Linked DNA regions of Homo sapiens. The protein of the gene in region 1 interacts with the protein of each later gene in a biochemical or structural test. Each region holds a gene or a part of one and is shown on either strand. Other genes may lie near its edges. The genes, in order: MAP7 and TRPV4.

Region 1 (4,057 bases):
GATTCTTCAGCATGAATATGGGGTTGAGGAAAAAGAGCTTCAGAACCAAAAGTTCCAGGCTGGATCCCTAGTTTTACCTTTGAGAAGTTCAGCAACTGTGGGGTTAACCTACTTAATTAAACCTTAGTTTTCTCATCTGGACATGGAGATACTTTCCACACAAAGTATTGGGAGGTTCAGTGAAATGCTATCTGTGAAGGAGTTCCAAAAACTGTTGTACTATATGAATGTTACATATCATTATCTTTATCCTCCTAAAATGAATGCAGTGTCCAGAAAACACACAGTACACTAGGTGTAGCTGCAGTGTGATGTAAAATAATGCTTTTGGTTTGTTCCTGGTATCCCATCTTCTCCTGCCTAGCATTTTATTGGCTTTTTTTTGTTTTTTCGTTTTTTTTTTTTTTTTTACCATCAAAACACAAGGAGTCAGTATCACCAAGGAACAGTTTGCAGTGATCCCAAGATGTCTTAACCTCCATTGTGACTGATCATTCACTGTCTTTTAAGGATAGCTCAGCTGACAGTTTTCTAAACCCACTGCTTTTACAGACTGCCTGCCTTGTCACTCATTTCATGATTTTCCCTGTTTTCTCGAGGGGCTATTTTTATGACTTGCATTTCCAAGAATAAACATTATCTGCATACTTAAATTTTATCCTGCTTGTCTTCCGATTATTATAAAACTAAACCTAGCACTGATCCCTGGGGCTCTCTGCCACTTAAACTCTTCCATCTAGAGAAGGGCTTGCTTATTCCTGTCTTTATTTTGTTTTATTTTTATTTTATAAAACAGAGTCTTGCTCTGTCACCAAGCCTGGAGTGCAGTGGTACGAGCATGGCTCACTGCAGCCTCTACCTCCTGGCTCAAATGATCCTCCCACCCCAGCCTCCTGAGTAGCTGGGACTACAGGTGCGAGCCACCACACCCAGCTAATTTAAAACATATATATTTTTATAGAGATTAGGTCTCCCTGTGTTGCCCAGGCTAGTCTCAAACTCTTGGCCTCTGGCCTTAAGCAGTCATCCCACCTTGGCCTCCTGAAGTGTTGGGATTACAGGCGTGAGTCACCACGCCCAGCCTATTCTTGTCTTTAAAATCCATCCCCAAAACAGCTTCCCATTCATGAATAAACATTCCCTTTGATGCAGTGGAAACTCAGGTTTTTAAACAGTTTTACATCTGAAATTCTGTTAAAAACTTTAAATGACAAATCACATCCATAAATATTTCCTTTCACTCCTAGTTTCAAATCAACCTTAAAATGCTTATAAAATCTTTGGTTTTCATCTCAGTGCATTATTTTTAGTGAGGCATTCCATGATCCTTGTGATCAGTCAGTATCTTTATTAAATACCCTACTTTGCACCTCAAGTAGAGTTATAGATCCCTCCAGCTTGCCCACTGTGAATTAAATCACTGATTAATGGAAATGCTCGGGGTCCCTGCCAAAGAACATGGTGTGCCTGATACTCCATGAAAATCCATCATGACAGATCATGCAAGTATAGTGGTAGAATTTATTTTTGCTAGAAAACTCCACTGCTCAGAATGACTATCTTTTCATTCAAATTGAGAGAGAAGTATCACTTTTCCTAATGTCTTTAGTACCTAATATATTCGTAAATAAATGAATGCTGTGAACTAAATTACATTTGCTCCTCCCCACCTTGAGATATTTCAGCAAACTGTCTAGCAGCACCCCAGGAGGATGGCGACCCCCTAACATTACTTTTCCTAGCAGCTAGGACTGAGACCCTTTGTTATAGAACAACTCTGTACCAGAAGTATCCTGAACCCTACTCCTCACCTTACTCCTGAGTGAGACGCCTGGCCCCTTTGCCCCAAAGCCATTTTTCTTGCCCATCTCTTTTCCCCCTGACAGGTTCCCCACTGACATTAGTTAGAATGGAAGAGGGTTTGAGTTATCACAATTCTGGCCAGATTTTAAAGGTATACAGAAATATGTGAATATGCCAAGTGTGGTGGCTCACGCCTGTAATCCCAGCACTTTAGCAGGTCTAGGCAAGCAGATCACTTGAGCCCAGGAGTTCAAGACCAGCTAGCAACATGGCAAGATCCCGTCTCTACAAAAAATACAAAGATCAGCCGAGGGCAGTGGCATGCATCTGTAGTCCCAGATACGCGGGAGGCTGAGGCGGGAGGATCGCCTGAGCCCAGGGAATTGAAGCTGCAGTAAGCCGTGATTGCACCACTGCACTCCAGCTTGGGCAACAGAGTGAGACCCTGTCTCAAAGAAATATATGAATATATATTAATAACATATATGGATTTTATAAAATTTTATAAATGAATATATACATTTTCCTATGTAAGATATACGACGTTTATAAAATACTTGAAATATATCTTTATGAAATATATGAATATTATATATGCCCTTGAGCTGATCATTCTTACTCAAAAGCCATGTTTGGTTCTTAAGAGAGAGTACTTGTGGAGGGATGTTCCACAGGAATTGAGGAAAATATTTGTCCATGGATAGGAAACTTGCTTTGGAACAGGAAACAAAGGATACGGATCCATATGAATACAAGTCGGGGAGGACAGGGGTGAATATCAGAATGGGAACAGAGGAAGTTATCTGCAGTTTCTCAGGTCATTCTGAGATGTTCTTCTACCCCTAGCTGAGAATCTCTAGTCCAGAGGCTAAGAAGCTCTGCTGCCTATACAGATACTGCCTTACCCTCCTAATACTCCAGAAGACATTTCATGTTTGTTCATTGCCGTAGGGGAGCTGTCTTTTCGTAGAATGTTCGTCTTTTTTTTTAAATAAGAAGTTTTTGGTAATTTTGGTGTTTGACCCATTCATTTTCCCTCCAAATCTTGAGTTCATCATTGCTCTTAGTTTGGCCTGAAGGAAAAGTAACATTCCCAGGCCCCTATTGTTCACACAGGAAGAGATGTATCCCTTTTAATTTAAAAGTTACTTGTTTTAACATAATTAATAAATATCAAGAGAAAATAAGGTTCTGGCTTCCATAAGCTGTGTGGACTGCAGATTCTTGCCAAGGTCCCAACCCCTGCCTGTACACATTTTGGACTGGAGCAAAGCGTGCGGTCTTCAAAAGTCTTACATCAGTCTTCAAACTTCAGAAGGTAACTGAAGGCAGGGAATTCAGAAGCTGGTGCTCTTATTCTGAGTGGACACACGGATCCATACTCCTTAACCCCAGTACTTCAGTTTCAGTTTTATAGTTTCTACCAGTCCCGATGTCCCCTGAACATTTCATGACTTGTCATCCAATGCATATGGCACAATTATCCCTCTGATTGCCAGCAGGTAGAATGGGCAGGTGGAGGGGAAATGAAATCTGATACTGGCTCAAGTCTGGGGTTAGCCATTGCCATTATGACTTGTTAGTACATGCAGGCCTGGAAGGTGACAGGTTAAGGTTGCCAAGGAAAGGGGGCTCTGGAGATACGTTCCTGTTCTTTATCCTTTGCCAGGACTTCTACTTAAATTCTCTCTGTATTAAGAACCAAAATTGTTTCCCTAGTTACAGAAAGGCTGTTGGTGTTAGGCAAGAACAGGAAGATGGGTGTGGCAGCCCAGGCACTTAGAACAGTAGATGTTAGGCATGTGTGTGCACACGTGACTTGGGGGGGGGGGCATGTGCACATGTGTGTGACTGTACTCTTGTGGAGACTTATAATGCCTAGTGGCATTCCCTTCCCTTCTTAGTAAAATAGCAGAAAAGCATCATCACACTGTATAATATTTCAGATTATTTTACAAATAATGTTTTCAGTGTATTCTGCAATGCCTTGTGAGACACTTAGGACAGGCATCTTCATTTTTTCCGTAAAAAAGGAAGGTTTAATAATTTTAAAAATACACAAATATTCAAATCAGAAATGCTTTAGTATGTGTTCCAAAGTCAATACTTCTCACTCAGTAGAGAAAGTAAACTATTTTGACTGGGCGTGGTGGCTCATGGCTGTAATCCCAGCACTTTGGGAGGCCGATGGGGGCAGATCACTCGAGGCCAGGAGTTCGAGACCATCCTGGCCAACACGAAGAAACCCTTTCTC
Region 2 (3,777 bases), on another chromosome or scaffold:
TGAGGCCCCAGGGCCCCCAGCCCCACTCTACCAGCCACCCTCGTCCTTCCGAGGAGACCCACCCGACTGGCTTCCTCGGCCTTCCACTCTGAGCAAGCAGTGTCTTCTCATTCTCCCTCCACTTCTCTGTCGGTAAAATGGGCATCAGAGGCTGCTGCTGACTTCCCAGAGCTGCCTAGTGAATTTTGAGGTGGCTTCTTGCCTGGCTGCCAGCAGTGGGCTCAGATTCTCCTTGTGGTCCAGCTCACAGGACACAGTCGGCTCCACCTAGCATGACTGAGTGACTTCTGCCGGCTCAGAAAGTGCTCCGTGGGCATCAGCGTTTCAGCAGGGGTCCCACGCTGAGCCCAGGGGCAGCTTTTGTGCTCTAGCACTCCAGCACAGGGATGTCAGCATTCTCATGGGGGTCTTTTTCTAGCAACTGTGAGCATGCTTCCTAGAGGAGAAACCAATGGGGACAGGGGCCGCCTTGGCCCGGGGAGCTGCAGAAAGTTTTTACTTACCAAAAGCTTTCTATGCAATCCTGGAAAGAACAGGCCCTGGGATCACAGCCCTCCCAGGCCAGGTGCAGCCTACAAACCTGGTGTCCTAATAAACAGTGCTGCCCCACGGCCCAGGAATACAGCACCCGTGTTTACCTTGACTGTGCATTTCAGGAAAATGGTGCAGTGAGAAAAAAGGGCCCAAGGTTGTCCTCCCAGGACTGGGTCTGAGGGAAACAGCTCTGGCCTGCTCTTAACCTTTATCTATATTGCTTACTTCATTGGGCCTCAGTTTCCCCACTGGGCATTACTCACAGGATGCAAACTGGGCATCCTGTGGGCTGGAGTGCAATGGTGTGATCTTGGCTCACTGCAACCTCTGCCTCCCAGGCTCAAGTGATTCTCTGTCCTCAGCCTCCCGAGTAGCTGGGGCTAAGGTGTGCACCACCTCACCCGGCTAATTTTTGTATTTTTTGTAAAGATGGGGTTTCACCATGTTGCCCAGGCTGGTCTTGAACTTCTGAGTTCAAGCTATCCACCTGCCTTGGCCTCCTAAAGTGCTGAGATTGCAGGTGTGAGCCACTGCACCCAGCATCAGACCATTATATTAAAAACAACAACAACAACAAAAAACTGCAAAATTTAAAAATTAAGAGATTCCCTATGAAAACCCAGATTTCTGGCTTTTCTTGAAAAGTTGGAAGCTCCAGGCAGTGCAGGGTCCGGATTCCTGCCTGGCAGCCCTCAGGTGGGGTGAGTGGCAGCTGCCCCCTTACACGTGGGCATTTGCTCCCTGTTCTCCCCAGTCTCTACCCCTCCCTCACTGAGAGGCAACTGCTGTGTAAGTGTGATAGGGCTTGGGCGGCAGCCTTTCTGCACCTGATCCTGTTTCACCCATTTGTTTTCCTGCCTGCCACCTGTGGGTATTTGAGTTTATAAACCCTGTGTCTAGTGGGGAGTAGGAGTCTAAATGCCTAGTTCTGGGCCCACCCTGGCCCGTTGTCTCATTTCTGCCACCAGAGCGGCAGGCGCAGGCTGTGAGGCTCACCGATGTCCCTCCTGACCCTCCCTCCCCGCAGTGGGCCACCACCATCCTGGACATTGAGCGCTCCTTCCCCGTATTCCTGAGGAAGGCCTTCCGCTCTGGGGAGATGGTCACCGTGGGCAAGAGCTCGGACGGCACTCCTGACCGCAGGTGGTGCTTCAGGTGAGGCTGGGGCAGTGGGGCCAGGATGGCAGGGCGGAACTGTCCCCACTGGCTCGGGGCCCCTGCTGCTCCAGCGTCGTCTACCCATTGCAATTTCTGGAGCCACTGAGGCCCCAAGAGGCCCGAGCAGAGTTCATTTCCACCAGGCGATCTCAGGCAAGTCAGCCCACCTCTCTCAGCCTCAGTTTCTTCATCTGTGGAATGAGACAATGATCTCACGGGCTCCTAGGCTGGCGGTGCGGATTAGACAGGTCAGCACGTGAGAAGTGCTCAGCCAGTGCCCGACGCGCATCGGGACGCCACAGGCTCCCCTGTTCTTGCTCAGGGGGAAGCAGAGACTTGGATGGTGGGTTCATTTTAGAGCATCACCCTGTATCTACCAAACAGTGGGGTGAGCTCTAGTGCCCTCGGTGAAATGGGAAGCTGAGGAATGTGCAGTTTCCAGGGCTGGAGACCTCACCCAGCCCATCTGCAGAATGACTCCGTGTTCCAGAGGCACAGGGAGTGCCAGCTTCTTAGGGGAACCCCTTCATGAATCTTTTCTTTCCAGTTGATTCATTCATTGTAAAGTGGTTGTCAGCATGGAGCATAAGCAGAATGTTTGGAGTCAGACAAAGTCAGTTTCTTCATCTGTGAAATGGGAACAATAATAGAACCCACCTCCTAGGCCATCCGATCAGTTCAATTCCATTTTTTGTTTGTTTTTAGAGGCAGGGTTGCTCAGGCTGGAGTGCAGTGGTGTGATCATAGCTGACTGCAGCCTCCAACTCCTGGTCTCAAGCGATCCTCCCACCTCAGCCTCCTCATGCCACCATGTCCGACCAATTTTTAATTTTTTTGTAGAGATGGGGTTCTTGCTATGTTGCCCAGGCTGGTCTCAAACTCCTGGTCTCAAGCGATCTTCCCACCTCAGCCTCCCAAAATGCTGGGATTACAGGCGTGAGCCACCACACCCAGCCTCTGTTCAGTTTGAATCCAAAGCTCAAATCTTGGCTGGGTGTGGTGGCTCGTGCTTGTAATCCCAGCACTTTGGGAGGCCAAGGTGGGTGGATCACCTGAGGTCAGGAGTTTGAGACCACCCTGGGCAACATGGTGAAACCCTGTCTCCACTAAAAATACAAAAATTAGTCGGGAGTGGTGGCATGCACCTGTAATCCCAGCTACTCGGGAGGCTGAGGCAGGAGAATCGCTTGAACCTGGTAGGTGGAGGTTGCAGTGAGCCGAGATTGCACTACTGCACTCCAGTCTGGCGGACAGAGCAAGACTCTGCCTTAAAACAAACAAACAAAAATGAATAGATAGGATAAAAAATTAAAGATAATATGTAAAAAAAAAAGATAATATATAAAAAAATGAGTGGATAAACAAAATGTGGGCTATGTGTACAGTGAAATATTATCTGGGCCAGGCGTGGTGACTGTAATACCAACACTTTGGGAAGCGAGGCAAGAGGATTGCTTGAGCCCAGGAGTTCAAGACCAACATAGTGAAACCCCATCTCTACAAAACGTTTTTAAAAAATTAGCCAGGTGTGGTGGCATATCCCTGTAATCCCAGCTACATGGGGGGCTGAAGTGGGCGGATCACTTGAGCCTGGGAGGTCAAGGTTGCAGTGAGCTGTGATCGTGCCACTGCACCCTAGCCTGGGCAATGGAGTGAGACCCTGTCTCAAAAGAAGGTTAAAAAAAATAATTTCTGCTTGGGGGAATGGAAGAATTTTGGAAATAGATAGCTGTGATGGTCACACAATGTGGATGTGCTTAATGCCACTGAATTGTATACTCAAAAATGATTAAGATGGCAAATTTTTTGTGTGTGTATACACACACACACACACACACACACACACGTCTTTTTTTTTTTTTTTTTGAGATGGAGTCTTGCTTTGTCCCCCAGGTTGGAGTGCAGTGGCGTGATCTCGGCTCACTGCAACTGCCTCCCAGGTTCAAGTGATTTTCCTGCCTCAGCCTCTCGGGTCACTGGGACTATAGGCACCCGCCACCATGCCCCGCTAATTTTTTTTTTAATTTTTTTTAATTTTTAGTAGAGGTGGGGTTTCACCATGTTGGCCAGGCTGGTCTCGAACTC

Evidence for each region.
Region 2: the proteins of MAP7 (region 1) and TRPV4 form a complex in vitro, tested with the Homo sapiens proteins (one study listed by BioGRID).

Annotation. Positions count from the first base shown.
Region 1 is NC_000006.12:136,347,590-136,351,646, reverse strand, and holds part of MAP7 (ensconsin), read left to right. Parts: intron 1-4,057. UniProt on the Homo sapiens protein: Microtubule-stabilizing protein that may play an important role during reorganization of microtubules during polarization and differentiation of epithelial cells. Associates with microtubules in a dynamic manner.
Region 2 is NC_000012.12:109,784,622-109,788,398, reverse strand, and holds part of TRPV4 (transient receptor potential cation channel subfamily V member 4), read left to right. Parts: intron 1-1,502; coding exon of another isoform or gene 1,503-1,523; exon of another isoform or gene 1,524-1,561; coding exon 1,562-1,689; intron 1,690-3,777. UniProt on the Homo sapiens protein: Non-selective calcium permeant cation channel involved in osmotic sensitivity and mechanosensitivity. Activation by exposure to hypotonicity within the physiological range exhibits an outward rectification.